Regions from separate parts of the Homo sapiens genome. Here all the other regions are linked to region 3. The links come from fine-mapping of genetic effects on gene expression. A gene starts in region 3. Each other region holds a variant in brackets. All regions are shown on one strand. Distances are between the middles of the regions.

Region 1 (4,064 bases), 46 kb after region 3:
TAAGGCGGGTGGATCACCTGAGGTCAGGAGTTTGAGACCAGCCTGTCCAAAATGGCAAAACCCCGTCTCTACTAAAAATACAGAAATTAGCCAGGCATGGTGGCGGGCGCCTGTAATCCCAGCTACTCGGGCGGCTGAGGCAGGAGAATCGCTTGAACCTGGGAGGCAGAGTTTGCAGCGAGCCAAGATAGCACCACTGCACCTCCAGCCTGGGCAACAGAGACTCTGTCTCAAAAAAAAAAAAAAAAAGAATCTACAAAGCTGCCAGTTACAAGTCACACCACTCATTGCTGGTTCCTCCCTGAGGCCCTTGACCTTGAACTTGACCCACGTGACCCTCACAAGTAAATCTGTCCCTGCTGCCACGTATTTCTTTGCATTCACCATAACATATGGGCTCCTTTTAAAAACTGAACAAGGACCCTGCCCTGAGTTCCACTCTGAGTCCTGGGGCACCGCTTGCCGTGGCTTGGCCCCTGCTCGGGTACACGATAGACACAGGACATCACCCCAGGGAGTGAGGGTGAGGAAGGGGTGAGTTCCGAACTGGTGTGGGGGAGTGAGGGAGGGGAAGGGCCCCTCGGCAGCCCACCCTGGTCTGTGCCTGGCTCCCCGCCAAGCCATCAAGATGCCCCAGGGATGGCGGCCCCAGAGGGTGGGCATCGACGCCAGCATCCTCCCTGCAGATCCGCGGCACCCTGAAGAGCTGGACCAAGCTGTGGTGCGTGCTGAAGCCGGGGGTGCTGCTCATCTACAAGACGCCCAAGGTGGGCCAGTGGGTGGGCACGGTGCTGCTGCACTGCTGCGAGCTCATCGAGCGGCCCTCCAAGAAGGACGGCTTCTGCTTCAAGCTCTTCCACCCGCTGGATCAGTCCGTCTGGGCCGTGAAGGTGCTGCGGAGGGGTGGGGTTGAAGACAGAGGCCCCGTAGGGCCAAGGGGCTCATTCCTAGGGCCCTGGTGGAGGGTGGAGCCAACCAGCTGAATGGCCCCCTTGGGGCCTTGAGCAGGTGTCTCACCTTCTCTGAGCCCCACATGCGGCCAGGGGATCAGATATGGCCACTGGTGCTCCATGTGAAGCACACAGTAGGCTGCAAGGAGGTGGCATCAAGGTCACCCCAGCCCCTCACCCAGCTGCTGTCCAGGAGGGACAACAGTGGCTGCTCCCCAGGGGTGGCCGAGGAACAGCGCCCAGCCCTCACCCCTCCTAACCCGGGGCTGCCCTGCCAGCTCTAACGGGTGGGAAACCAGAGAAACCCTGAACACCTGGTTACATTTGGATTTCAGAGAAACATCAGAGTTCTTTCATGCTAGTATGACCCCAGTCATGTATGGGAAATACTTACACCAAAAAGCTACTCATGGTTTCTCTGGGATTCGAACATCATTGGGCATCCTGGATGTGCCTTTGCTGATTCTGGACAGCCCAAGTCAGGAGGCTCAGAGCTGGAAAGCTGAGGGCAGAGCTGCCAGCTAAGAAAGGGGACAGAGCTCCCCCACCTACCCGCCTCTCTGCAGCCAAGTGTCTACCTGGCCAGGTGCCTGGCCCCACCTGGTGGCCCTGTGGCCCTGGGGGTGTCCAGGTGGTCCCAGGTGTGGATCCGCATGGTTCTGCCTGACCTATCTGTGCAGCTGGCCCTGGGTGTTGCCTCGGGTGACACCCAGATCTCTCTCTCTCCAGGGCCCCAAAGGTGAGAGCGTGGGCTCCATCACACAGCCCCTGCCCAGCAGCTACCTGATCTTCAGGGCCGCCTCCGAGTCAGATGGTGAGTCCCTGCCAGCTTGCGCATCTCCCCAGTGCCCCCACCTGAAGTGGGCCCCCTTTTGAGGTTGTAGCCCAGGTACAGGTGGCCCCAGTTCAGTCCCTTCTACTGTCTGGGGGCAGCCTGAAGTCTGGCCAGGATGAGCCCGGCTC[G/A]GAGTCAGGCCTACACTCACAGAGCCCCCATGCCTAGCCTCAGTTTTCCCATGAGTAAAATGTGACATTAAAATACCACCTGTCAAAGGCCAGGCGTGGTGGCTCACACCTGTAATCCCAGCACTTTGGCAAGCCAAGGCGGGTAGATTACTTGAGGTCAGGAGTTCAGGACCAGCCTGGCCAACATGGTGAAACCCCGACTCTACTAAAAAATACAAAAATTAGCCAGGCGTGGTGGCAGGCGCCTGTAATCCCAGCTACTCGGGAGACTGAGACAGGAGGATTGCTTGAACCCGGGAGATGGAAGTTGCAGCAATCCAAGATGGTGCCATTGCACTCCAGCCTGGGTGACAAGAGCAAAAGTCCGTCTTAAAGAAAAAAAAAAAACCACCTGTCACCCCAATGTTATGAGAACCCAGTGACCTTATAAAAGCACCCATATAACAATTACTGAGCTCCAACCACATGCCAGTGTGAACCCCAAACATCTGAGACAGGTCTCAGTTAATTTAGAAAGTTTATTTTGCCAGGCCGGGTGCAGTGGCTCACACCTGTAATCCCAGCACTTTGGGAGGCTGAGGCAGGTGGATCACCTGAGGTCAGGAGTTTGACCAGCCTGATCAACATGGCGAAACCCTGTCTCTACTAAAAATACAAAATTAGCTGGGCATGGTGGTGGGTGCCCGTGATCCCAACTACTCAGGAGGCTGAGGCAAGAGAATCCCTTGAACCCAGGAGGCAGAGTTTGCAGTGAGCCAAGATCACACCACTGCACTCCAGCCTGGGTGACAGAGGGAGACTCCATCTCAAAAAAAAAAAAAAAAAAATAGTTTATTTTGCCAAGGTTGAGGCCGTGCCTGTGACACAGCCTCAGGAGGTTCTGATGACTTGTGCCCAAGGTGGTCCGAGCACAGTTTGGTTTTATACATTTTAGGGAGATATGAGACATCAGTCAACACATGCAAGATGAACATTGGTTCGGTCTGGAAAGGCGGGACAATCAAAGCCGGGAGGGGGCTTCCAGGTCATAGGTAGATTAGAGACAAATGGTTGCATTCCTTTGAGTTTCTGATGAGCCTCTCCAAAGGAGACAATCAGATCTGCATTTATCTCAGTGAGCAGAGGGGTGACTTGGAATAGAATGGGGGGGCAGGTTGGCCCCTAGCAGTGCCCAGCTTGACTTTTCCCTTTAGCTTCGTGATTTTGGGAGCCCAAGATATTTTCCTTTCACATTTCCCCCCTTTTTAAAAATCTTTTGGAGAAAGCATTTTAGAAGAAAACGAGTCTCTGGTCTCAGGTTCCACCTGATCTCTCATGGCTAGGATGGTTTATTCCTACACAGGTAGGTCCCAAGTTATTAGGAAAGCTCATTTTCAGAAGGCTGTGAAGTCTCATGTCCTATGAAGAGAAAATAGTAGGAGGAAGGCAGAAAAACAACAACAAACAAAAGAACAATCCTGGGAAATTGGTATAGGCCACATTACTCTGAAGTCCATACATCAGTAGGCAGGCAAGAAAGTGGCTTATGTATGTAAGTAGGTTGCTGTTATTTTCTTCTGAAGTTTAAGTTGTCTAGTTTCAGTTTGCAGGGCTTTAAGAAAGCACAGCTTAGTCTTCAGCGACTCCAAATTAGGAAAAATGGGAAAAAAATGAAGGAAAAAAATTGAAAACATTATTTTGAAGACCTATAGCCAACAAAAATTAGGATTTCATCCAAAGTGCAGAAAATAACAAAAATTGAAAAACATTAGGGAAGAGTAGAATCTAACAACAGCTGTACTATAGTTTTTGAAACATAATTTTTTCTCTCCAGTTTCCCATTTTAACTAAGGACAAATTATGGTAGGACTGGTTTGCTTTATTATACTTGGACTAATTATTTATATACAGTGCAGCAAGAGTAATTAGTTTTTACATAGGCTTTTAAATTGTCTTTGATGGAACTTTGTTCCATAGAAAGAATCTCAGATAAGACTTTTTTAAAGCTGAGCCCAGTCATGGACTTGTACCATTAAACACCTATAAGTTGGGCGAATTATTATCTTCTTGAGGTTCCAAGATAAATTTGGAGCTCCTGGGCCTGTCAGAAAGTGACATTCTTTACTTACCACAGGTCAGGAACCCTGTACAGGGACTGTGTAGATGAGGTAT
Region 2 (4,064 bases), 77 kb after region 3:
GGAAGAAAGGGAGTGGGCCCAGGCCAGGGGCTCCCCAGCGGTGGGAGGGGCAGGTCCAGTGGCATCCTGCCCCAGCCCTCTGCTCCTTTCCTGTCACCAGGAGCTGTGTCTCCCCAACTTTGTCCCTGCCTCTGTAATGGATGGGCCTTGCCTTGGCCACTTCTGCCTCCCAGGCCTGTTAGTGGCTGGTCCAGCCTGGGGGTTCCCTCCAGAAACATCCTCAGCACCCCTCCCTCATCTCCGTGTCTTCAGCTTGGCCCTGCAGGTTTCCCATGAGGTGGGGTGGAGGCCCGAGCTGGATATGACCCTGTGACCCACGTGCCAGCCCCACTGGACCTCCAGCTCATCCTCACTCCTCCCCTCCCCTCCTTTGTCTCACTCGGGGCCGTCCCAGGCGGTGAGAGCCCATGCCCTCGGTGCAGGAAGGAGGCGCGGCGGCTGCAGGCCCTGCACGAGGCCATCCTCTCCATCCGAGAGGCCCAGCAGGAGCTGCACAGGTGGGCCACACTCAGGGTGTCCATCCAGACTCCGGGTCAGAGAGTGCGAGAGACCTGGTAGAGCTAGGGCGGGAGGTGGGGAGGCCAGGAGGCCGCGGCTGGGGTTGTCATCGGAGCTGGAACCCACAAGACCTGCAGGGTGATGAAAGGAAGACAACCGCCGAGGGCAGGAGAGAGGGTGTGGGAGCGGCAGGTGGTGCGGGATGATCAACCAGCCAAGTTGGCCATGCCTGGCAGATACTGAGCTGGAGATGTCCTGAAGCCTAGAGGAAGGTGCCAGCCCAGCATGGCCTGGGGTAGCCCCAGGAGAGACCTTGAGGTGTGCAGAGCGAGGTGGCAGCCTGGGCTCACTGTGGTGGCCCCATACCTGCGCACAGTGGCTTCTCAGGAATGGCTGGGGAAGGAGCAAATGGGAGTGGCCGAGAGCTGGCAGGTGCAGGCCACCAGGGCCACATGGCCCCTTCCTGTCAGCAGATCCCACCAATGAGGAGCAGAGCACAGGGTCCCTCTCGGGTCCAAAGCTCCTGACTCTGAGCCAGGCTGAGGGTCTCACTGGCTGTGGGACCTTGGCTGTCACACCTCAGCCTCCCCTCTGTAAAGTGGGCTTGATAGCAGTACCCCAGGGTGAAATGCAGCCAGGGCACAGGCCCGGGCTCTGTGAGGCTCAAGAGCCTTGGGGAACTGTCATTGTCCCTGTGTAAGCATTTCCAGAAGGTGCTCCCTGGTGAGGCTGTGTGGGCAGAGAAGCAGGGAGGCCTGGCTCCCCAGAAGCAGGTCAGCTGTCAGGCAGGTGGCCAGGACTCAGCCAGAAGCTTCTGCAGCAAACTGGATACCGCCTCAGAGGCCAGGTCCTCCACGGCAAAGTACTCCAGCTCAGGGCCAGGGCCTCCACAGCAGAGTACTGCCGGCAAGGGGCTCGGACAGCGCGTCTACTCCCTCGCGGTCCCGGAGGCTGGAGTCCAAGATCTCGGTGCCACAGGGCTGGTTTATCCCGAGACCTCTCTCCTGCCTGGCAGACGCCAGCTTCTCGCTGTGTCTGTGTCTTCATCTCTTCTTCATATAAGGACACCAGTCCCATGGGACCAGGGCCCACCCTAATGGTCTCCATTTAAATAAATACCTCTTTAAGGACCCCATCTCCAAATACAGTCTTATCTAAGGTGCAAGGGGTTAGGACTCCAACATATGAAGGTGGCAGAGGCATGACTCAGCCATAACCACAGGGGTGGGAGGGAGGATGTAAAAGGCTGACTCCCCAATCCCTGACCCTCCTCTGCCCTGAATGTGCCCAGGGAATCCCAGTATAGCCATGGTGCTGTGGGGCCCTCCCACTAACAAGCTTTCCACCCCCACCCGCTCTGTTGCCCCTGGAGGGCCATCCCATCTCCACCTCGGCCCTGTGTCCAGCACCTGGTCAAGTACCCAGGGCACTGTCCTGGCTTGTGGGAGGGGGACTTGCTGGCATTGGCACAGCCCCCACGATCTGTCGCCTGTCCTTGCAGGCACCTCTCGGCCATGCTGAGCTCCACGGCACGGGCAGCACAGGCACCGACCCCAGGCCTCCTGCAGAGCCCCCGATCCTGGTTCCTGCTCTGCGTGTTCCTGGCGTGTCAGCTGTTCATTAACCACATCCTCAAATAGGAGCCCTG[A/G]GGGCAGAGCTCCTGGCCGGTCCTGAGCCCTCCCTCCCAGGCACCCAGCACTTTAAGCCTGCTCCATGGAGGCAGAGAGGCCCGGCAAGCACAGCCACTGTGACGGGGAGTCCAGGCGCAGGAGGGACCCGGGGCCACAAGGCGCTGCGGGCCCAGGTGTGCTGGGCCCCTCTCAGGGGCACTGGCCTCTCTGCAGGGCCTTCCGCCCAGCGCTGGCCTTAATGCTAAAGCCAAATGCAGCTTCTGCTGTGCGACGCACTCCTGGCCATCTTGCCGTGTCACCCCCTGTCCGGCCTCCACTTGCCATGGGGGATGGATGGATTTAGGGTGGGAGGGCCTGTGGGGGCCCTGGACAGTCACACCCCAGCAGCAGTGAGTGGGCAGGTTTGGAGGAGCCCCGAGTGGCCCAGGAGTCCCCCCACACACAGATGCATAGGCCTGCCTTCCGGAGACCCTGTCCACATTGCCGGGACCACCCTGGTGGGGCCACTGGTGGGTGCCAGGGACAGGTTAGGGCCACTCTGGGGAAGGCATTTTGGTTTTTTATTCCACGCTGTGCTGTTTGGATGGGAGCCCCACAGAGGCAGGTCCTGGAACCACCCCACCCCCACACCTGGACGCTCGCTCTGGTGGGGGCACACGCAGGTGGAGGTGGTTGTGGGTGCAGGTGTGTGCAGGGGTGTGGGGGGCGCAGGGGTGTGGCTTAGCTGGCCCCGCACCCAGGCCGGGGAGGCTCAAGTTCGCCACTTTACTCAGACCGATGCACAGTCTTCCCATTTTACACTTTTTTAATAAACATAATTGCAATATTTTAGGTGGGCTGCGAGCTGCAGTCAGCCTTCACGTCTGGCCTCAGTCCCCGTGTCAGTGCCGCTCTGCGTGTGCGTGTGCGCGTGTGTGAGCCTCTACACATATATATACGTACAGAGCCTTAAACCACATCGTGGCGGTGCCGTCTGAGCTGTAGCGGGTGGCTTTGTTTCCAGTTTTTGTACCCGTGTCCTTGTCTCCCCTCCTCCCCCATCTGGGGATGTGTCTGTGTTCCACACCTTGAAATAAACAGACACATACGTGTTCTCTTCTTGCGGGACTTCTGGAAACGAGAGGAGGGCTTCCCAGGAAGACTCAAGGCCAGCATGGAGCTGTGTGGGGCTGGGTGGAGGGGCCCGGGAGGGAGGAGGGTGCAGAGTTCACAGGGAGCTGTGGGCAGCCTGCCCGCCCTGTGGAGCAAATGCTGGGAGGCTGGCGTCCCATCACCCAATGAGCCAGTGGGGGACACAGAGTGACACTGCCCACAGGCACTCCAGGCACCTCAGAGGCTGCTGGGGGGCATTGGCACAGCCCCTGAGGCCAATGCTGCCAGTTACTGAAGGGGACCCCCCCTGGCTGGACCACCTGGCCCGCTGCCCCTTGCTTCGGTTCCACTGTGGCCACCACCCCTGGTACTCAGACACCAAGGCCAGTGAGTGGGCCTGCTCAGGGTGCCCCTGAAGGCGGGGTGGGGGCACCTGACCACAGGCCTCAAGTGACAGCAGAGGGAGACTGCAGCCCACCCCTCACAGCAACCAGAGGACAAGGGTGATGAAAGGGAGGGCAGCCAGGCAGCACCCAGGAGAGGGGGACACGAGGGGCCTCGGGTCACCACCTCCCTTCTGCACCTCCCCACCTCGACCCCCAAGGCCCCAGGAGAGGAGGGGCTGTGGCTGGGGTGGAGGGAGAGGCAGGGGGTCCTGCCCCCCAGCTCCTCTGAGGAGCCTCATGTCCGCCTCAGACAGCCAGGACTCCCAAGACCCCCCCGAACCACCTGGAGGATGGGGCGGGGGGCCCTGCCTGGCTCCAGTGCCCCTCTGTGGAGGCCACACACCATGGGGCAAACATGAGCTCAGAGTGTGAGCCCTGGGGGTGACAGCCTTCTGCA
Region 3 (4,064 bases):
AACCAGGCAAGAGGCTGGAAATGGGGCTTTCTGGAAAAATGCAGAGCCTGCTGGGAAGTGGGGCAGACAACTGACACCTGTCACTGAGCCTGGCAGGTGGCGTGTTCTTCATTTCTTGCATGGCCATCTGGCTGTCAGACACTACCCAGTGAGAGGCTCAACCCTCGTCCTGCTCCACCCCAGCCCCACCCTGCTGTCATCTATGGCCCCTTCCCCCACCCTCAGGTGCCTCTTTGACTTTTGACCTCTGCCCTCAGCAGTGTCATTTCATGAAACCCAGGCCCTGGACAGCCAGCATCAAGCAACTGGCAACCTTCCCTACTGCCGCCCCTGAGACCTCCGCCCTAGGGATAGGGGCTTTGTTTTCTTCCCTAATTCCCTTTGGATTGGCTCCAGCAACCAGCAAGTTACCAGGCAGCAGCACCTCAGCTTTGGGCGGAGTCTTCAAAGAGCAGACCCAGCAGTTGTATGTGGATCCCAGCTGCACAGACCCTCTCCTGCAGAGGCAGAGGCCGCCTGCCACAGGCCACGCGGAGCAGGGTCCCACCATGGCCCTGAGCATCTTGACTGAGCAGTTCTGCATCCCAAGGCCTCACAAGGTGACTATGGAATGGCAATGCTAGCCCTGGGGGTAAGCTTAGGGCAAGTCCGATCAGCCCACTCGCCTCCGTAAGCCGTGGGTTCCTGTGATCCGCACACAAGCGGCTGGTGCTGCTATCCCCAGGAGGATACCCACCAACTTGTCTAACGGGGTGGGCAAGGCCAGGGCTGAGACGGGAAGGGGTCTGGCTTGTTGTGGGCAGAGCACCTGCATGCTGTGCCGTTCCCCCTTCAGGTGCTGGAAGGAGCCTTCCTGGGCCGCTCGCCCTCCGCAGCCCTGCTGGGAGGTCTTGCAGACGCCCATGATAGCCAGGCTTGCGGCCTCCCGAATGCAACTGCAGCGTGAAACCGTAGAAACACACGTGTCAGTGGCAGTTCTGCCTGGGGAGGAGCCCAGGGCTCTCTGCGGAGGGTCAGTTCTGTCCCTGTTAAGGTTCTGTGTGGAAAAGACTCCACGCCCTCTTGGGGTCTACCTACATCTGGGGATGCCCGAGCCCAGCTCCCAGTTTTTCTGGTCATTTGGGGACATACCATAGGAAGGACCTGCAGTGCACCTCAGGCTTGGACACTAGGGATGCAAACGCCCTGGGGCCAGCCCTGGGCCCACACCCAATTTAGGGTCTACAGGCAGGGAGCCAGGGGCCAGGGGAGGACTTCTCAGCTCCCAAGGGGATGCTGTTTAGGGGAATTAGAATGTCTTTTATATACAAGAGAACTGAGGGGTCTAAAAAGGTCTCTGGGGGGTAGAAGAAGGTGAGGAGAAAACACAGGAAGAAATGCACATGAGGGGAGGTTCTTGTCAAAAGGGTCCTGAGAAAGACGTACAGTTAGAGTGTGACTGAGGGTCCTTCTTAGCACATAAGGGGCAGGGACAACGGGCTCAGATGTCTGGGGCTCCTCTTGTGTTCTGATGGCTCCTGAGACGGGGAGAAACGGCGACAGTTTCCTGGGTTCAGGAAGGGAGAGGAGGCGCCTCGCACCCTGGCTAGGGTGGGCTGGGGGCCTGCACCCCTAAGTTGGAGAACCCCACGAAGCTGACCCCACTCACCGCTGCCCACCCCGCCAAGCCTCCTGGCCATTTTCAGCGGAGTGTCCCGACCTCTGGCCGCCCGGGTGGGTGTGAGCCCCGGAGCGCGCGCGGGGGGTTGGGGGATGAGGAGAAGCGGCAGCCGGTGGGGGGCAGCCCCTGGGCGCCCGCTCCGCGCGGCGATTCGGCCCGGGTTTTGCGGCCGCCGCGCCTCCTCCTCCCGCCTCCGGGCTCCCTGGGCCTCCTCCCTCCGCCGCGCCCTCGCTCCGCCTCGCGCGGGGGGACCATCTGCTGGCATTTCCTGCAGCCAGGCCCGCGCCGCCAGTGGAGCCCCCGCGCGCCCGGCCGGCCCGGAGCACCGAGCTCGCGGCACGGTAGGAGGTAGGAGCGCGGCGGCCCGGGGGGCGGCAGGGCGGCGGGGGGATGGCGGGCTGGGAAGGATCCGGAGGGCCCCGCCGGGCAGGGCCGGAGCGAACCGAGGGCCGCGGGGGGCCGGCCGAAGGGATCCAGGAGCTCGCGCCGCAGCCCCGCGGACCCTGGCAGTAGCCAGTGCGGGGAACCACGCCGCGGGGCCGGTCGCGCGCTGGGGAGCTGGGGAGCGCGGGAGCCTGGGGGCGCCCCGGGCCAGGACGGGTCGGCGCCTGGCGGGTTGGGGCGGGTGGGGCCCGCGAGTGGGAAGCGGCGCGCCCAGCTCGGCTCCCCACTTGGTGGGGCTTAAAGGAGCCGGGACCGCCAGGGAAGGTGGCTGGGTCTGACCACCACAAACCCTGGCCAATCAGGGGGTCTGTCCCCCCAGCTCGGCCGACGCGGGCTCCAAGGAGCCAGGTCTTGATGGGTCTGCAGGGGGTCTGGGATCTGAGTCTGGCGTCCCAGCTGCGGGCTTGGGAGGACTGCTGTGTCTGAGTCCGCAGAGTCAGGGGGCTGCCTGGATTACAGGCTAGGGAAGGACCTTGCCCACAGCCCCCATCTCTGGGGCACTGACCCCCTGAAGATGTGGAGCCTTAGGGATTGTTGAGGTGCCTGAGTCCTCAAGAGGGTCTTGTGCACTTGAAGATTCCTCCCGGGGAGCGGGGTGCAGGAGGGTGGGGCAGGCAGGAAGGAGGCTGGAGTCTGCAGCCCCCCGGGCAACAGGCCCGTCCTGGGCTTCCCAGGCACCGCCCCCAACCCCCACCCAGACCGCTGGGCTGCCTCCTGTCAGAAGCCAACTGGAGTTAGGGTTTGGGGTGACTCCTGGGGGTATGGAGGGGTCACAGGGTGGGCTTACCTGCCCCTCCCTCGTCCCTGGGCTGAGCCCAGCCCCTCCCTCATCCTTGGGCTGAGCGGGTCTGCCCCGCCGAAGCGGCTGGGTGGATTTCCTCTCTTGCCGTTTCGCAACTTGCTCCCCTCTGTGTGTCTGCCCCAGTCTCTTCAAGGTGCCTTTTACAGGAAGACTTCTGTAAGGGTCCCACCCCACCTGATACAGCCTCCCAAAGCCTGGAGAAGTGGGCCAGCCTTTGGGATCCTAGATAGATGCTCTTGGGTCTGCCTGCACCAGGGCTGATCCAGATCCCAGACTGAACAGAAACTCTGCTCCCCAACCCCAGGAGTAAGGCCCCTCTGCACGTTTTTATCCCACCTCCTTGGTACACAGGGCCTTGCTGTTCCTTGAACCTGCCAGGTGAGTGGGGGCTTTGCAGGCATCGGGCAGGTTTGTGGCAACCTGGGGTGGCATCATGTGCCCAGCTGCTCCCTTCTGGTCTCAGGCTCCAGAACTGCAGATCCTATTGTCTGCCTGCACGCGTGTGGGGCTGGCCTGGGGTGCCAGGAGGCAGGCACCGCGTGTGTCTGTCTTGCCAGGCTGTGTTTAAGAAAGGTGACACAGCAGATAGGCCGGATGAGGAGCCTCTGACCTGCAGTCCTGGGCCTGGTCTCAGAGAGGCTGCCCTGCAGATGTCGAACCCCGGGCAGCCATCCTGCATGTCCAGTGGAGGCTCCTTTCTGGGTCCAGATTGGGCCATGAATAGGCCATGTTCTTCAAAGGACTGCTTTCAGCTCTTTACAGAATACCAACGCAAGACCGCCCCCCCCACCCAACCCCTACCCAGGATTGTATTTACTATGCTGAGAATGCCTGGTATCAGTTTCTCTCCTGAGATCCTGGCCTCACTCTGAGCGCTGATAGTAATCTGACATGTAACGCTTGGGGGAGGGAGAAACACTCTGTGACAAGCCGGCGGGTGGAAGGGCTGTGTGTGTCTCTGCCAGCTGTGTTTTGGGGACTGGTGCTCTCTGCTGATTCTGTGGTTAAGCCTGCACACGTTTGCACACATACAGGCACAGTGTGCAGGTGGAAAACTTACCCAAGATGACAGAAGGTGCCCCCCGCCCCCATTCCCATTTATTGTTCAAGGGACAGGTGAATCTGAGCCTGTGACCGCAGCTGAGAAATGTTGTGGAC
Region 4 (4,064 bases), 29 kb after region 3:
AGCATCTGAAAATCGGAGTCTCCTTTCAGTTGGGACAGGTGGGGTGGGTCTAGCTGGGAGGTGGTGGGTCTAGCTGGGAGGTGGTGGGGCCAGGCCTGCCTCAGGGACCACGCCCAGCCCGCCCCCATGCCAGGGCTTCTTAGGGCTGGTGGAGTGATCGACTACAGGGGTGTGGGGTCGGGGTACCAAGGCCAGCTGACCCAGTAGCTGCTCTGAGCCTTCAGTGGGCCTGGTGTCCATCAGGAGGACAGGTGGACAGGGCCGGGGACGGGCTGGCCTGGCCGGGCCCACAGGCACAGGACTTGGCTGAGGCAGCCCGGAGAACACGCAGGCATGGCTCGATGCTGCGTCCTCAGCAGTGCAGGCCACTTCCTGTGCCCCTCTTGAGGTTCAACCACTCCACAGCTGCCTCTGATAAATGTCTCCCCAGAGGGAGGCCTGGCCTCCCCCTCAGCTCCACAGCTATCTCCAAAGTGCAAAGGGGATTTGGGGCTTCAGCTGTGCTCCTTTGAGGGGATCCCAGGCGCAGCCTGGCCCACGAGACCTTAGATGGGCCGTTTCCCCTCTTGGGGTCCCAGTGTGTTTGTGTGTGATGAGGGTGTCACTTTGTCACCCAGGCTGAGTGCAGTGGCATGACCATGGCTCATAGCAGCCTCGACCTCCCAGGCTCAAGCAATCCTCCCACCTCAGCCTCCTGAGTAACTGGGACCACAGGCATGTGCCACCACAACCGGCTGTTTTTATGTTTGTAGAGACAGGGTCTCGCTATGTTGCCCAGGCTGATCTCGATCTCCTAGGCTCAAGCGATCCACCCGCCTCAGGCTCCCAAAGTGTTGGGATTACAGGCTTGTAATCCCAGGTGCAGTACACCCGGCCCACTGCATCTTTAAAATGTGATGATGACCCCTGCTCCCCTGCTCCCCGCACCTTGCGAGCATTCCGAGAATCATATCAGATGGGACAGAACATCCAGGAGGACCTGGGGGCTTTAAGGTCCATCAGTGCAGCAGATGTCCTGGGAAAGCGCATGTCCCAAGCCCCCCAGGGCCCAGCTGCCACAGCTGAAGTGCATGCCACGGCTCTCTGAAGAGGCTGCTGCTCCTGCAGGGGTGGTCAGGCTGCCCACATTAGCACTAGGCATTCGGTCCACCCAGACACAGCAGCCTGGTCTCTTATGCTGCTGTCTGCTCTCAGGGAGTGCATCTGTTGCTGTGGTGGTCTCCCTGGGGTGACTCAGGAGGCCTGCGTGGTTTCCTCACAGCAGGATCTTCATGGTCACTTGCATTGACCTTAGCAAGTTTCTGGAATGCAAACGTATGGTGTTGACATGATGGCTGCTGTCCTTTAACTGATGGCTGCTGTCCTTCCTTGGGACCCACTGACCTCTCCATCCCATGTGCGAAGAGCCAAGCATTTGGGCTTATGTTCCTTTATCCTTGTGATTTTAGAGCATTTCCCCTCCACAGTCTTGAACGAGAATCTATCTGGTTTAGGCAGAAGCATCTGTGCCGGATGTTACTGCTGAAGGCTGGCTGCGGAGTTCCTGCTTTTCTGGCCCCTGCCAATTGATGGAGCACCCCAGTGGCCAGAGCCTCCTCTCTGCCCCCATGCAGCGCGGCCCAGCCCTGTCACTCTGGGCTGTGGGTGAGGAAGCCACATAGGCGTGGAGGGGGCTGGGTCTGGGCTCACACTCACCTCTGCAGGCGCCTTCCCCAGGGCCTCCTGTGGGCCTGGGACATCATCTCCCTGACTCAGAGCAAGTCCTGATTTACAAACAGGGCCTGAGAGATGAAGGTGGCCAGCTGAGGCCACACAACCACTGGAGTCATGGCTGGGCCCTTTTCCCCAGCTCTGCGGTCCCCAGGCCTCTGCAGGAGGACAGAGGAGGAATTGGGCACAGGAAGGATGCGGAATGAGTCCAGGACTCAGCTGGATTCCTTCTCAGAGCTTCAGCCTTTCCCAGAGCTGAGGCAGTGTCTGCCCCTGGCCAAGGTTCAGCTAAGTGTGGCCCCAGCTGATGGCTCTATGTGGCCTGAGGAGGCGCCAGTGACCTTTCTTTACAAGAATCCCTTTATCCTAGCCTGAAGGCGAGC[G/A]TCTGGGAGGCAGGGGGTAAGGAGCACTTTGGAGGCTGGATTACTGCTGGGAAGGCAGCTGGCGGAGGCAGGGGGGCCATGTGCACTGGCTCTGGGTGGGGCCCCCATTGGGCCTGGGCCCCATGCTGCCAAACAGCTGGCCTTGGCGTGGGGTCAGAGAGCATGGCCCCTCCCCAGGTGTCCAGAGGCAAGCATCCTCAGGGACACAGGGCTGGCCAGGCAGAGGCAGAACCTGACCTGTCCCTCCCCATCTGCTCTGGGCTGGCACCACATGGGACCTCTTGTCTCCCAGTGGTGGAAGGGGTCTTTCATGCCCCACATGAGAAATGGAAGGAAGAGCCTGCTCCAGCCTATGCAGTGGGGGTTGGGGAGGGGTGGTCAGCCCAGAGTCAGAGCTCACTCCCTTCCTGTGCCCTCGCCTCTGTCCCCTCCGCAACTCCTAGGTGGCCCAGGAAACTCAGCAGGGCAGGAGGAAGTGGGAGCCATGAGGAGGGGACCAGGAGGTGCCTGTGGTTAACAGGAAGGGGGGTCAAGCAGTGGCTCTGGGTGTGGGTGGGACCCTGCCGCAGGCAAGGCGGCCCCCAGGCGCTGCCACCACGGGGCGGTGTCTTAGCTGTGGTCTCAGGAGTGCAGCAGCTGCACGACACCATCACGGCCACCTGCAGTCCCCGAGAGCCCCACATGTCCATCTGGCCTGGGCATTCTGCAGCTTTGGGCACAGGCAGGGGTGGGAGTCTGGGGCTAGCCTGGAGGAGGGTGCTGGGGTCTCAGGAGAGGACCTGGAAGGGGCACCCATCCCTGCCTGCCTGGGCATCCACCTCCTTGCCCAGAGGAGGGCCTCAGGAGTGGCCTCTGCCTGGCTGCCACGGTTCTGGCTCTCTGTCCCCCTTACTCTCTGGCCCTCCAGAACGTTCCCCGGCCCTTAGCAGCTCCAGCGTCTCTCAAGCCCCCTTCCAGCCATGAGCGAATTCATTCTAGAGATGCAGAGTTGGCCCCTGTGTGTGCCCCGCCCAACTGGGTCCAGAGGTGCTTGAGTAGTCAAGGAAGTCAGCTGGGCCAGTGTCCCCTTGGCGGAAGCACGGCCCTGCCCAGCCCAGCACAGCTCAGTTCAGGGGAACCCACCCAGGCCAAAGCGAAGCACCGCCAGGGCGCACTTCAGGTCCAAAGAGACGCACGGGGGCGGTCAGCTGCTCCTGAGGACTGACAGCTGGGGAAACGTTCTTGGACAAAGGGGCTGGGTCTCCGAGGAAGAAGGAGGAGCCCCCTGCAGAGGGCCAGGCAGAAGCAAAGGCCCAGCTCGGGGGCTGGGGTGCAGAGAAAGGGGGGCCTTCCATGGGCCGAGCTTCTCCCGCGTCCCCTCTCCAGCCTAGTGGGACCACAAGTGGGATTGTCAGCTCTCCCAGGCTGGTGGTTGGCCCTGCCCACGGGCCTGCACCCGGCACCCACACTTGCCCCTCCCCCACCCTCAGCCCCTCTCTGGGTCACAGGATCACCCCCACCCCACCCCCAAGTCCCAGCAGACCTCTGAGGAGACCCACTCACGCAGCTGAAGCCCAGCCCCTGTGGGCTCCCCGGCCCATCCCGCCACATGGCAGAGGAGGCTCTGCTCAGAGCACATTCTTTCGGTGGACAGCGGGTCTCCACCCCAACCCAAGTCCAAAGTGTTCCCTTTTGGTGCCTCCCTCCCTCCTTTCCAAAAGGCCCAAAGAGGCACAAAGTCATGACTGAGAAGAGCGGCTGGGCAGGGCACCCACCTGGGATGGGCTAGGGACCAGCAGCAGGAGGAGGGGCTGGGGGGCCAGCCCTGCTCACCTTGAGCCTTCACAGGCTGGGGAGTGGGCCTGGCTCACTCTGGACTAGGAAGAGTGGCCCCCACCCTAGTCACTAGGTCTGCCCAACAGCTGAACAAAACCTGGCGCTCCCCCAGGCAAGGGGCACTTGGAGAATTGGTTCCTGGGGACACAGGCAACC
Region 5 (4,064 bases), 47 kb before region 3:
GTATATGAAAGAAATAAAACTAACAACTGAGAGGGGGTCAGCGGGGGTGGGGGTCCAGGCTGAGCAGGGGACACACAGGAAGCTGCTGCAGCAGCAGCAATGCAGGGAAGAGGGAAGAGCTGGTGCAGCCTCCAAAGAGGACAATGGCAGGAAGGCTGCAGGAGAGGATCTGAGGTCTGGGGGGAGACGTAGCGTAGAATTTGCAGTGGAACAAGGTCCGATCAGGAAAGGAAGAAGTCAGGAGCCTTCACAGAGGGGAAGGGTAGGAAAATAAAACACAGGCACCTGCCAAGAAGAACAGAAAGATCAGGATCCTGAGAGGGGGCTGTGGATCCTGAGATGGGGCTGTGGACCCTGGGAGGGGGCTGTTGATCCTGAGAGGGGGCTGTCGATCCTGAGAGGGGGCTGTGGATCCTGGGAGGGGGCTGTTGATCCTGAGAGGGGGCTGTTGGCAGCTGACCCTGGGATGGGAATAGGGATGTATCAAGCATGGAAAAAAGACACCCAGGGGCCAATGGGTAAACTCCCAGGTTTGCATTTCCTGTGTTCATCTCAGATTAAATGTAGGTGGTGAGAGATGATGATCAAAGTTCATTTTGTCTGTTTCTTTCCCATGCATATCCAGTTGTTCTGGTAAAACCCCTTTTCCCATTGGATTGCATTGGCATCTGTATTGTAAATCAACTGATTGTATAGGGTGGGTCGACTTCTGGACTCTATTCTGTTGACTGCTCTATTTCACTGTCCTTCTATCAACACCGCACTGTCTTCATTACTGCAGTTTTACATTAAGTTATGAAATCAAGTGGTGTTACTCCTACACTTTTATATTTCTTCTTCAAGATTTACATTTCTATATAAATTTCAGAATCAGCTTGACAGTTTGTGCAAATGTCTACTGATTTTGACTGGGATAGCATTGACTCTATTCAGTTACTCTGGATCAACTTATGGAGAACGGACGTCTTGGCAACATTGAGTTTACCAATTTATGAACATGGTTTTTCTCTGTTTATTGTGGTCTTCTTTCATTTCTGTCTCTGTAGTTTTCACTGTAGGTGTGTTATACATTTCAGGTAAAATGTATTGCTAGTTATTTAAGGTTTCTCAATGCTATGTAAAAATAATCTTTTATTTGCTTTTTCCAATATTCATTGATAGTTTGTATATTGTTTGTATATTGATAGTTTGTATTATTTTTGTATATTGACTTTGATTTTTTTATATTTATCTAACAGCTATCCTGTGAACTTGCTGAATTCACTTATTCTAATAGTCTTTTTGAAAACTGCTTAGGAGTTTCTACGTATACAATCAAATCATTTGCATGACATTATTATTGTAAATAATGAATAATGAATAATTATTGTGAATAATAATTAAAATGATGCATGATTAATAGTGATAAATATAAGAATTAGGAAAATTTTAATAATTATAATTAACACATGATTAATAGTTATTATAAATAATAATAATTAGAAATAATTTTACTAATTCCTTTCTGGTCTTTGCACTTTTTGTTCTTTGTTTTATATCACTCATTAAGACCTCCCATACAATGTTAATAGAAATAGTAAAAGTGGACATCCTCACCTCATTCCCAACCTTTCAGGAAAGTGCTCAATGTTTTGCCATTAAACATGTTAGCTGCAGGCTTTTTGTATGTGCGCCTCATCATAGTGATATGATTCCCATCTATTCCCAATTTTCTGACTTCCTTTAATCACACATAGGTATTGAATTCCATCAACTTTTTGTTCCTTCATTTATTAATGCGACCAT[G/A]CAGTTTGTCTTTGTTAGTCTGTTAATGGGAGGAATTGCACTGATTTATTTTCAAATGTTAACTTTGTATTCCTTGGATAGTCCCTGTCACGCATGTCCATGTGAAGAGACCACCAAACAGGCTTTGTGTGAGCAATAAAGCTTTTCAATCACCTGGGTGCAGGTGGACTGAGTCTGAAAAAGGAGTCAGCAAAGGGAGATAGGAGTGGGGCAGTTTTATAGGATTTGAGTAGGTAGTGGAAAATTACAGTTAAAGAGGGTTTTCTCTTGCGGGCAGGGGCAGGGGTCACAAGGTGCTCGGTGGGGAGATCATGAGACTCGTTGTCCAGGGGAGGAATGTCACAAGGTCGTTTGATTAGTTGGGGTGGGGTAGGAACAAATCACCATGGTGGAATGTCATCAATTGAGGCAGGAACTGGCTATTTTCACTTCTTTTGTGGATCTTCAGTTGCTTCAGGCCATCTGGATGTATACGTGCAGGTCACAGGGGATATGATAGCTTAGCTTGGGCTCAGAGGCCTGACAATCCCCACTTGGCCATGACATATTATCCTTTTTATATATTGGTGGATTTGATTTATGAATATTTTGAAATGGGTATTTGCATTTGTGTTCATGAGAGAGGTTGGTGTCTCATTTATTTTCTAGTGATGTCCTTTTCAGGTTTGGGCATCAATTATTTCCTCTTGCTCAACTCTGTGTAAGAGTTTGGATAAAACCAATATTATTTCACCAATGAAGCCAATTGGGTTTTTGTGAACAGGTTCTAAAACACAATTTCAATTTCTTTAACAAATATAGGGCTATTCAGATTCTCTTTTTCTTCTTGTGTCAGTTTTCTTTTTCAAGGAATTTGTCCACTTCATTTTATCTGAGTTTGAATTTGTTAGCATAAACTTGTATACCATATCCCCTTATTAATCTTTTATTGTCTATCAAATTCACATATCTCTTTTTTATTTTTACTATGGGTACTTTGCATTTTCTCCTGAAAATTCTCATTAGGGCTTTATCAATTTTAGTAATCTTTTCATAGAACCAACTTTTATTGATTTTTCCTATAGTGTTCATCTGTTTTCTATTTAATTTCTGTTTATCTGTATTTATTACATCTTTCTGTCTAAATCATGAAAGTTAAATTTGTTCTTTTTTTCTAGCTTTTTGAGTTAAGCAGCTTAGATAATTTTTTTAAATCTTTTCTTGTAGGCTGCATAATGCTCCCTACCAAGATGTTCACCCACTTGTAATATAGAAACACTCCATATGAGAGCACAGATTACCAGAATAGGCATTTTTTCATGATGCAACAATATGCTGCCTACAAGAGACACATTTTAGATTGAAAGGCACAAATAAGTTAAATGTAAAAAGATATAAAATGAGGCTGGTCACAATGGTTTATGCCTGTAATCCCAGCACTTTGGGAAGCCAACACAAGAGGATCACTTGAGCTCAGGAGTTTGAGACCAGCCTTGGCAACACAGTGAGACCTTGTCTCTACAAAAAATAAAAAATTCACCAGATGCAGTGGTGCACACCTATAGTCCCAGCTGCTTGGGAGACTGAGGCCAGAGGATCCTTTGAGCCCAGGAGATCAAGACTGCAGTGAGCTGTGATCACACCACTGCACTCCAGCCTGTCTCAATAAATTTTTATTTCTATTTATTTATTTATTTATTTATTTTGAGATGGAGTCTTGCTCTGTTGCCAGGCTGGAGTGCAGTGGTGCAATCTCAGCTCACTGCAACCTCTACCTCCTGGGTTCAGGTGATTCTCCTGCCTCAGCCTCCCAAGTAGCTGGGACTACAGGCACATGCCACCATGCCCAGCTAATTTTTGTATTTTTAGTAGAGATGGTTTTCACCATGTTGTCCAGGATGGTCTTGATCTCTTGACTTTGTGATCCACCCACCTTGGCCTCCCAAAGTGCTGGGATTACAGGCAGATATAAAATGATATTCCATGTAAACAACAACCAAAAGAGAGCTAAAATGGTTATAATAATATCAGACTAAATAAATTTAATTTAAAAAAATTGTTACTAGAGACAAACAAGGACATTATACCATCATAAAAGGGTCAGTCCATCAAGAGATACCACAACTATAAACATATATGCTCGTGGTAGGCTAAAAACAAAGCCCCCTTAAAACATATGCATGTCCTAACCCATGTAACCTGTGAATGTGAACTTCTATGACAAAAGGGACTTTGTAGATATGATTAAATTAAGGCTCTTGAGATGGATAGATGATTTTAGATTATCTGGGTGGGCCCAG
Region 6 (4,064 bases), 23 kb after region 3:
GCAGCATAACATGGGGTGTCCCCAAAGTCAGACCACCCACGTGTGTGGCTGCTCAGCCAGTCACAGGTGGTGGAATTTGGGGCCGGTGTCTGCTGTCTCAGTGTCGGTGGAACGGGGTCAGGCCAGGCCCAGCCCGCACTCCCCTGCAGAGGTCAGCTGGTCCCGGCCACGGAGCCTGGCGGGTTTGCTGCTGGCTGTGATCATGATCAATGCATTGATGGGAATGTGAAGAGTTATGGAAATTCCACTTTGTTTTTTAAAGAAACAGCATCGGTCACCCATAGTCCACCGCTGCCAGCGTTTCTGCACACTCCAGCTCCCCGTCATGGGGCTTTACCATGTCGAGGGCACCTCACACTGCTCCTTGGCACCATGGCACCCCACTTCCCTGGGGCTCTCATTGTCAGCGGTTTCATTGTATCCCCCAGAGTGTGAGCTGCAGAGGAGGGGGCATGTTCTGTCCCCACCTGCCTGTCACTTCCACCCGCGTTGGGTTTTTTGTGTGTTTCTGTCCTGATGCAGCCTGCTTGAACCACCTCACAAACAATAAACCCGTGTTTGGTCTCAGGGCTGTGGGACCCCCTGAGGATGGGAGGAGCCATCGAGGTTTGCCGGGCTCAGTGGGTGCTGGAGCAGCTGGCCCCCGCCAGGCCTGACTCAGTGTGACTTGAGGCCATCGACCCTCTGTCCTGCTACCCAAACCCAGTGTCCACCCCATAGCTCCCACCACACAGGATGATCCCAAGAGCTGTCGATTCCACAGCATCTGCTGTGCACTGCAGCCCGGGTGCCTTCCTCGGGCCCTGCTCAGCTATGACCACGGCCAGGAGCTAGGAGGATCCCCCTGGGCTGCAGTAAAGCAAACCAAGGGCCCAGGGCTCCAGGATCATCTGGTCAGCCTCCAGTCATAGTGGACTCCAAAGCCCATGCTCTTTCCCCAAAGAGCCCCAGGAAACCGGGACAGAACCGGGCCGGGCCCTGGCAAGCACCAGTCTGCGTTCCGTGTCCAGACCTGCCCGTCCTGGACACTGCGTGGGCGTGGAAGCGGACAAGATGTGGCCTTTGGTATCTGGCTTCTTTGACTTGGTGCATCTCTGCGGCTCATCCGTGTCGTCGCATGTGTGAGTGCCGTGCTTCCTGCCTCCTGAAGGCCGAATGTTCTTCCATCCGTTGCACAGATGTGATCCATGTTTATCCGTTCACCCATGTGGATGTCTGGCTGTGTCCGCTCTCTGATGGCCCTGAGCCATGCTGCTGGGAGCGTGCGTGCGCGGACCACCTGGGGGCGTGTGCTTGTTTCTCTTGGGTGTGTCGCGTCCGTGCGTTTTCGCCCACAGTGCAGCCCCCCATGGGCCCCTGGAGCCGGTCGCTGGTCCACGCACTGGGCTGTACCTGCCTCCTCTGCCCCGCTCCGCACCTGCCTCCTCTGCCCCCCCCGCACCTGCCTCCTCTGCCCCCCTCTGCACCTGCCTCCTCTGCCCGGCTCTGCACCTGCCTCCTCTGCCCGGCTCTGCACCTGCCTCCTCTGCCCCCCTCTGCACCTGCCTCCTCTGCCCGGCTCTGCACCTGCCTCCTCTGCCCCCCTCTGCACCTGCCTCCTCTGCCCCGCTCCGCACCTGCCTCCTCTGCCCCCCCCCGCACCTGCCTCCTCTGCCCCCCTCTGCACCTGCCTCCTCTGCCCTGCTCTGCAGGCTCCAGGACCGTCCAGACCCAGATGCTGGGTCCCAA[G/A]GGTCTCTGCTCACACACCCCCACCCCGTGTGCCGTCCGCTGTCCTGGGTGACTGGTTTTGTCCTTTTCCTCTGGTCTCACTGTTTCCTTGTGTGCAAGGAGTGGGCAGTCACTGCCCTTCTACCCGCAAGGCTGCATGGGGCTCGGGGATCCCCAGGTGAAGGGAGACCTGCTGGTCTTCCAGCCTCCACCCCTGCACACGACTTCCTGCCGGGCCCCGCGGACACGGAGACAGAGGGACAGGTCTCCACCTGAGTGGGTCTATGAGGAGAGACAGAGACATGAAACCAGCGGTCCTGTTGATAAACGCACCACCCAGGCTCTCCACCCGCGAGACGGTGACTCTCAGACCTGTAGGATGGAGTCATTCATTTCATTTTCCTGTTTCATTCTCAGTTTCCTCATCTGTAAAAAGGGAGGGGAGCTAAGCATCCGGGTGAAATCTGACCTCCTGGGACACGGAGCAGCGAGTGGGGAGGGATCCTGGGCCCTTGTGGCAGCAGGGCATGGAGGGGTCGTGGTGGAGAGGTAGGGGCTTCCCAGTTGTACAGACCAGCAGCCCAGAAAGTGTTCTCTTGGACCATCTGGGCATTGCACTCCCCCAGCTGTGGGCAGCCCCGTGGACTTTGGGGTGGCACCAGGGCCCAGCACCTCCTGCACCAACCTGCCGTGTGGCCCTGGGCGAGTCAGCTTCTTCTCTTGGCCTCAGAAACCAGCTGTCGGCCGGGCACGGTGGCTCACGCCTGTAATCCCAGCACTTTGGGACGCCGAGGAGGGCAGATCACTTGAGGTCGGGAGTTGGAGACCAGCCTGGCCAACATGGTGAAACCATGTCTCTACTGAAAAAATACAAAAAAATTTTAGCCGGTCATCGTGGCAGGTGCCTGTAGTCCCAGCAACGCGGGAGGCTGAGGCAGGATAATTGCTTGAACCCGGGAGACAGAGGTTGCAGTGAGCCAAGATCGTGCCATTGTACTCCAGTCTGGGCAACAGAGCGAGACTCCGTCTCAAAAAAAATAAAAAGAAAGAAAAGAAACTGCAACTGTAACATGGAGAGAAAGTGGGAAAATGGCGCATTTGTACTCTTGCAGTCTTTTTTCCTTCCAGGGCGTAGAGTCCTCCCAGTCCCTGCACTGGGTGGGAGGCGGGTGGGGGGTGGGTGTTCCTACTGTCACCCCATTTAGCATCCTGTGCCCAGGGGAGGACACACATGCAAGGGTGGCGTAGGCACCTCGGCAAAGCACTGGGATGCATGAGAATCGCAACTTGGCAATGCATTGAGCGAGGTGCGAGCTTTCCGTTCATAGAAGGGTTCCCCTTGGAGGTCAGCAAAATCCAGCCCCTCCCTGTCCTCTCTGCGCAACTCGGGCCATAATGGACCCCATTAATGCCATTTCCTGAACACTTTGGCAAGCTCTCCACCACAGCGGAAGACAGATTGGGGGTCCTTCTGTTTGAGACCCCCCCCATTTCCTGAGAGACAGATTGGGGGCCCTTCTGGAAGCTCTGTTCTGAGGGGAACCAAGGAGGCCTCGGGGCTGGACCTGCCTGCTGGGGCAGGAGGGGTTTCTAGAATCCACGTCCTTCCCACTATGCAGAGTCACAGGGAGGATGCTGGACCCGAGGGTGTGTTCCCGGGTGAGCAGGAGGCGCTTGGTCAAAGGACGCTGTGCATTGTCCAGGAGCAATCACGACTCGGTGGCATCTCCTGTGCCCTCCCTGCATCACACATGATGACGATACTGTCTGCTGGGCGGGGGGAAGCCTGGGTGGCTGTCAGCATCAGAGCACTCGAAACTGCCTGGAATGAGGCTTTATGGGTTGACGTTGTTTCTGTTGTTAGGTGGTTTTTATTCCTGTTTTGGGGGCCTCTTCGTACAAGGCATTGGGCTGACCCCCACCCAAGTTGGTGCCCCCAGGGTCCTACCTGCCAGGCTTTGTGTCTTCTTCTCTGCAGTGTGTGACCCCTGACCCTTGACAGATGGCATCGGGGAAGGAGTGGCTCTGAGGTGGTCACCTGGCCCCAGGGCCCCCTGGGCTGTCACACCCATGGGCTGACCAGAGCACCAGCTGCAGCTCTGCATGGGCGGGTAGGGGTGGGGTAGGCACCTCACCTTGATACACCCAGGGGCAGCCTCAGCTCCTGGACATGAGGGGCCGCCCCAGGTACCCACATACCCCAAGGAGGACTAGGATGGGACGTGTGGGCAGCAGGTGACCTTATGACCTCTCTGGTCTTGGAAACAAGGCTCCTACAGCCAGTCCTGGGTAATGTGAGCTGGGGGACAGAGGGGAGCCGGGACGACGATGCCTGTCCACTGGTGGGGCAGCATGTA
Region 7 (4,064 bases), 35 kb after region 3:
GATGGATGGATGGATGGATGGATGCCTGAAAGGGAGGGAGGGTGGGTGGATGGGTGGGTGGATGGATGGATGGATGGATGGATGGATGGATGGATGGATGGATGGACAGGAGGATGGATGGATGCCTGAAAGGGAGGGAGGGTGGGTGGATGGGTGGATGGATGGATGGATGGATGGTTTGGTGGGTGGATGGATAGATGAGTGGGTAGATGGATGGATGGATGGATGAATGAATGGGTAGGTGGATGGATGGATGGATGGATGGGAAGATGGTGGATGGATGGATGGATGCCTGGGAGGATGGATGGATGGATGGATGGATGGATGGATGGATAGATGAATGGGTGGGTGGGTGGATGGATGGATGGGAGGACAGTAGATGGATGGATGAATAGACGGGTGGATGAATAGACAGATGGATGAATGGGTGGATGGATGGATGAATGGGTGGATGGATGGATGGATGGATGAATGAATGGGTGGGTGGATGGATGGATGGATGGATGAATGGGTGGATGGATGGATAGATGGGAGGATGGTAGATGGATGGATGGATGGACGAATGGGTGGATGGATGAATGGGTAGATGGATGGATGGATGGATTGATGGATAGATGGGATGACAGTAGATGGATGGATGGATGGATGGATGAATGGGTGGGTGGGTGGATGGATGGATGGATGGATGCCTGGAAGGGAGATGTATGTATGTATAGATGGAGGGATACAAGGGAGCGGGAGACTGGTGTATAGATGAGACTGGTGTATAGATGAGTGGATGGTGGCACTCACAGACTAAGAAGTCCCACTGGCTGTCATTGGTGCTGGGAGAAGGTATGTGGGGTATCTGAGCAGAAAGGTACCAAGATCCCCTATGGCCTTTCTACCTTGGCCCAGGTGGAACTGGAGCAGACAGCCAGACAGGGCAGCTGAGGCTAGGTTTTGAGCCCCTCTCCCTGCCCCAGGAGGTTCCAAGTGAGGGAGACCTACCTGGGAATCGCTGTCACCACACTGCCTGGGACATTCCGGGGCTCTCTGTGGGTCCTGAGAGCAGGATCGCTGCTCACTTACCTTGGCTGCCTGGTGCCCAGCCCAGCCTGGGTGCTCAGAAAATCTCAGCTGTCTGAGTAAGCCCGGCCTCCGCTCAGCTGCTGGTTCCCATCCTGAGCTGCACCTGGGCAAGTAGGACGTGTTTGTTGTGATTGACAAGTAGGGGCAGGACTTCCCATCTGCCTGCTTCCCTGCGGCAGGTTGGCTGAGCCAAGCTGAGACACTGAGTGGGCAGACACTCAGCGGCTGGGTTTTAGGATCGGTTCCACCTGGCTTAAGGACGGCATTGCTGATTGTTAGCTCTGTGACCTGGGCCAAAACGCCAGCCTCTCTGAAGCCAGCTGCCCTGTGTGTAAGATGGCCAAGGTCATGAGCCGAGCCAGGGGCCAGGTGAGGGAGGGGCTGGCCCAGCCTGGCTGCATCCTTGGAGCCCCTCCCCACTCTGACTTCAGGACTGGGGGCACAGAGGGGGCTCTGGGGTGGTGGACAGAAGCCCCCAGGACCACAGACACCCTGGGCCCCCAGCCCACTCCTGAAGCCACAGCAGGAAAGTCTCTGTGTGTCTGAGGCCCCCCCCAGCAAAGCCCAGGACCATGGGAGAAATCGAGGCCTTTGTCCCGGGCTTGGCAGGATGCCACTGGCCTGCCCTGAGGCAGCAGGAAGCAGCCCCAGAAAATTGGGAAAGGAGGAAAATTGACCAGTAGTTTTTAAGGAGCTCGCCCTTGGGAAGTGGACACAAGATGAGAAGCTGGAGGGGATGCTCTGCCAACCCTTGTCAGGTCACGATTACAGGTCGAGGCCTTCCACTCCCTGAGCCATGATTTTCTCATCTGTAAAATGGGCTGAGACCTCAGTGGATCTGGCGCCGTCAACTTCAAGTGCCTGCAAAGGCGTGACTGCAATCAGTTACCCTCTGCTTGGCCCAGCACTACTAGGTGTAGGGCTGGTGGGGAGCAGGACAGAGGGGACCGCCTGTTGTCCTCTCTCCTTCCAGGGGAGGAAACAAGAAACTCGCTTCTGAACCCACAGGGGAAAGGCAGGTCTGCCAGTGGGCGGGGCTGGGAGAGCGAGGCAGGTGGGTGTCAGGGCCTGGCTGTGGGGCCTCCCTCTTTTGTGAAGCAGCAAGGAAGCTCCCACTGGGAATGCAACGTCTTGGGCTGGGCGTGGACGCAGGTGTGCCTGGCTGTGAGCGCCCAGAGCTCCCTCTCTTGCTGGGGTGCATGTGGGTGCAACTGAAACTGTTGGGGCACCCAAGCTTCAGGCGGGCTTAACCAGAGGCGAGGCGCTCCTGGGACCCTTAG[A/G]TGGATGGCAGGCCAGGCTCCCGGACTGCCCAACACCGTGCCAGCCACTCCCTGGTGCTCAGCGGCCACCTGGTCTCACCCCCGTGCATCTTCTCCATGGAAGCTCTAGACCCCTCCCCACCACAAAGTGCTGTCACGTGGGAGGGAAATGCGGGAGGGAAAACCTGTGTCTACACGTGGGTCTGCCTGGCTGCAGCCAGGGTCTCACAGAACCTGGGGTGGGGGTTCTGAGAAGGACATCTTCCGAGGGTGGTGATGAGCCTCTCTGACCAGGGCTCCGTCCAGCCCTACTGCCCGGCGTGGAAAGGGCTGGCACCAGCCAAAGCCATTCGCCTGAGCTGGGCTGTCCTGGCTGACCACCCACCACCAGGCTCCCAGGGCCCAGGCCCTCCTCACCCTGCCTCAGAAGTCCCCTGAGAGGGGGACTTCTTAGCCAGGGGCACCCCCACCATGTGGCTCTGAAGCCCCTTCCGGGGCGGTGACCTCCTGCTGCCCCTCCTTCCTTCCTTCCAGAAGCCCCCGAGCGCCCACAGCATGAAGGAGGAGGCCTTCCTCCGGCGCCGCTTCTCCCTGTGTCCACCTTCCTCCACCCCTCAGAAAGTCGACCCCCGGAAGCTCACCCGGAACTTGCTCCTCAGCGGAGACAATGAGCTCTACCCACTCAGCCCAGGTAAGTGCCGGCCGTGGGCAGGGCAACCTGGCCCTCAGCTTGGGCCCGGTGGGGTGACCCCGGGCGGCCCAACCCCTCTGTGCCCCTTGAGGTCCACAGCTTCCATGCTGGGGACTGTGTGGGTTTCATGATCAAACGGTTTGTAGCTTGGTAGAGTGCCAGGTAATACGGCTTCTTGGCTTGACCTGCGGGGCCAGGTGAAGCCCATCTGGTTGAGGAGGGGGTTCCCACAGCCCAGGCTTTGGGAGTTATGGAGTGCAGTCATCCCAAAGTCAGCCCAGGCTTTGGGAGTTATGGAGTGCAGGCTCCAGGGACAGGTGGCCTGAGCCCCAGTCCTGGCAGGGTAACCCCAGGCCAGCTACTTGACCTCTCTAGGCCTCAGTTGACTGATCTATAAAATGGGACAATATTAGTACCTACTCCCAGCTATACATGGGTCCTGGGCTCTGAGAGGGGACAGCTGGAACCAGGCCTGCCTTCGTGCAATTGTAGATAAAGCACCCAGCACACAGACTCAGAACCTCTGCCCGCCAATGCTGCCACTCTCCAGGCCCCTCCCTGGCACCTAACTATGCACAACCCCTGCCCCAGCCAAGGCTGAGCTGTGACTGCTGTCCCCCAGAAAACCCAGCCCTTCCTCCCCTGTTCCCCTGAGAGTAGGAGGTAGGGGCAGGCACCTGCCTGGGGGACCTCTCCCCAGCTCTGCCCCCTCTCCTCCCACTGCCTGCTTTGGGGCTGAGGAAGTGGGAGCCCCAGCCCTGCCTGGCCATGGTCATCTCATCTGCCCTGGGGGGAGTGGGAGAGCATTGGGCGGATCCACCACCCAGGCTCGAGGGGCGTGTGGTCGCAGCCAAAGTCCCATCCAATAGATGGAAAAACGGAGTCCCAGCGTAGAGGTGGCCTTGCTGAAGGTGCTATGGCAGGCAGGGGCACTCGACACCCGGCAAGGTAAATCCTACACCTTTTATTCTCTGCTGTCACGTTCACCCTGGCCGGAGGCTTAGAAGCACTTGCAGAGTCAGGGGTGGGGAGGGGAAGGGCTG

Evidence for each region. PIP is the estimated chance that this variant, and not a neighbour inherited with it, causes the effect.
Region 1: its variant is fine-mapped to the expression of OSBPL5 in unexposed skin (GTEx, PIP 0.96).
Region 2: its variant is fine-mapped to the expression of OSBPL5 in whole blood (TOPMed, PIP 0.93).
Region 4: its variant is fine-mapped to the expression of OSBPL5 in whole blood (INTERVAL, PIP 0.95).
Region 5: its variant is fine-mapped to the expression of OSBPL5 in cerebellar hemisphere (GTEx, PIP 0.91).
Region 6: its variant is fine-mapped to the expression of OSBPL5 in whole blood (TOPMed, PIP above 0.99).
Region 7: its variant is fine-mapped to the expression of OSBPL5 in monocytes (Fairfax 2014, PIP 0.93).

Annotation. Positions count from the first base shown.
Region 1 is chr11:3,117,247-3,121,310 of GRCh38, reverse strand. It overlaps OSBPL5 (oxysterol binding protein like 5), which reads left to right. Exons shown (of 22, transcript NM_020896.4): 6 at 687-890; 7 at 1,680-1,764. Among named protein-coding and RNA genes, the nearest start is that of OSBPL5, 46 kb to the left of the region's middle. RefSeq lists an enhancer at 1,348-1,517. The variant G/A (reference allele first, on the strand shown) is at 1,914.
Region 2 is chr11:3,086,279-3,090,342 of GRCh38, reverse strand. It overlaps OSBPL5 (oxysterol binding protein like 5), which reads left to right. Exons shown (of 22, transcript NM_020896.4): 21 at 395-497; 22 at 2,000-3,236. The coding sequence ends at 2,138. Among named protein-coding and RNA genes, the nearest start is that of CARS1, 31 kb to the right of the region's middle. The variant A/G (reference allele first, on the strand shown) is at 2,147.
Region 3 is chr11:3,163,160-3,167,223 of GRCh38, reverse strand. OSBPL5 (oxysterol binding protein like 5) reads left to right here and starts at 1,914. Exons shown (of 22, transcript NM_020896.4): 1 at 1,914-2,008. RefSeq lists enhancers at 720-1,432, 3,176-3,869.
Region 4 is chr11:3,134,334-3,138,397 of GRCh38, reverse strand. All of the region lies in intron 1 of OSBPL5 (oxysterol binding protein like 5), which reads left to right. Among named protein-coding and RNA genes, the nearest start is that of OSBPL5, 29 kb to the left of the region's middle. RefSeq lists enhancers at 1,467-2,074, 2,075-2,683, 2,684-3,291. The variant G/A (reference allele first, on the strand shown) is at 2,094.
Region 5 is chr11:3,209,836-3,213,899 of GRCh38, reverse strand. No RefSeq gene overlaps it. Among named protein-coding and RNA genes, the nearest start is that of MRGPRG-AS1, 6.5 kb to the left of the region's middle. The variant G/A (reference allele first, on the strand shown) is at 1,786.
Region 6 is chr11:3,140,604-3,144,667 of GRCh38, reverse strand. All of the region lies in intron 1 of OSBPL5 (oxysterol binding protein like 5), which reads left to right. Among named protein-coding and RNA genes, the nearest start is that of OSBPL5, 23 kb to the left of the region's middle. The variant G/A (reference allele first, on the strand shown) is at 1,729.
Region 7 is chr11:3,127,970-3,132,033 of GRCh38, reverse strand. It overlaps OSBPL5 (oxysterol binding protein like 5), which reads left to right. Exons shown (of 22, transcript NM_020896.4): 2 at 2,865-3,021. The coding sequence starts at 2,886. Among named protein-coding and RNA genes, the nearest start is that of OSBPL5, 35 kb to the left of the region's middle. The variant A/G (reference allele first, on the strand shown) is at 2,352.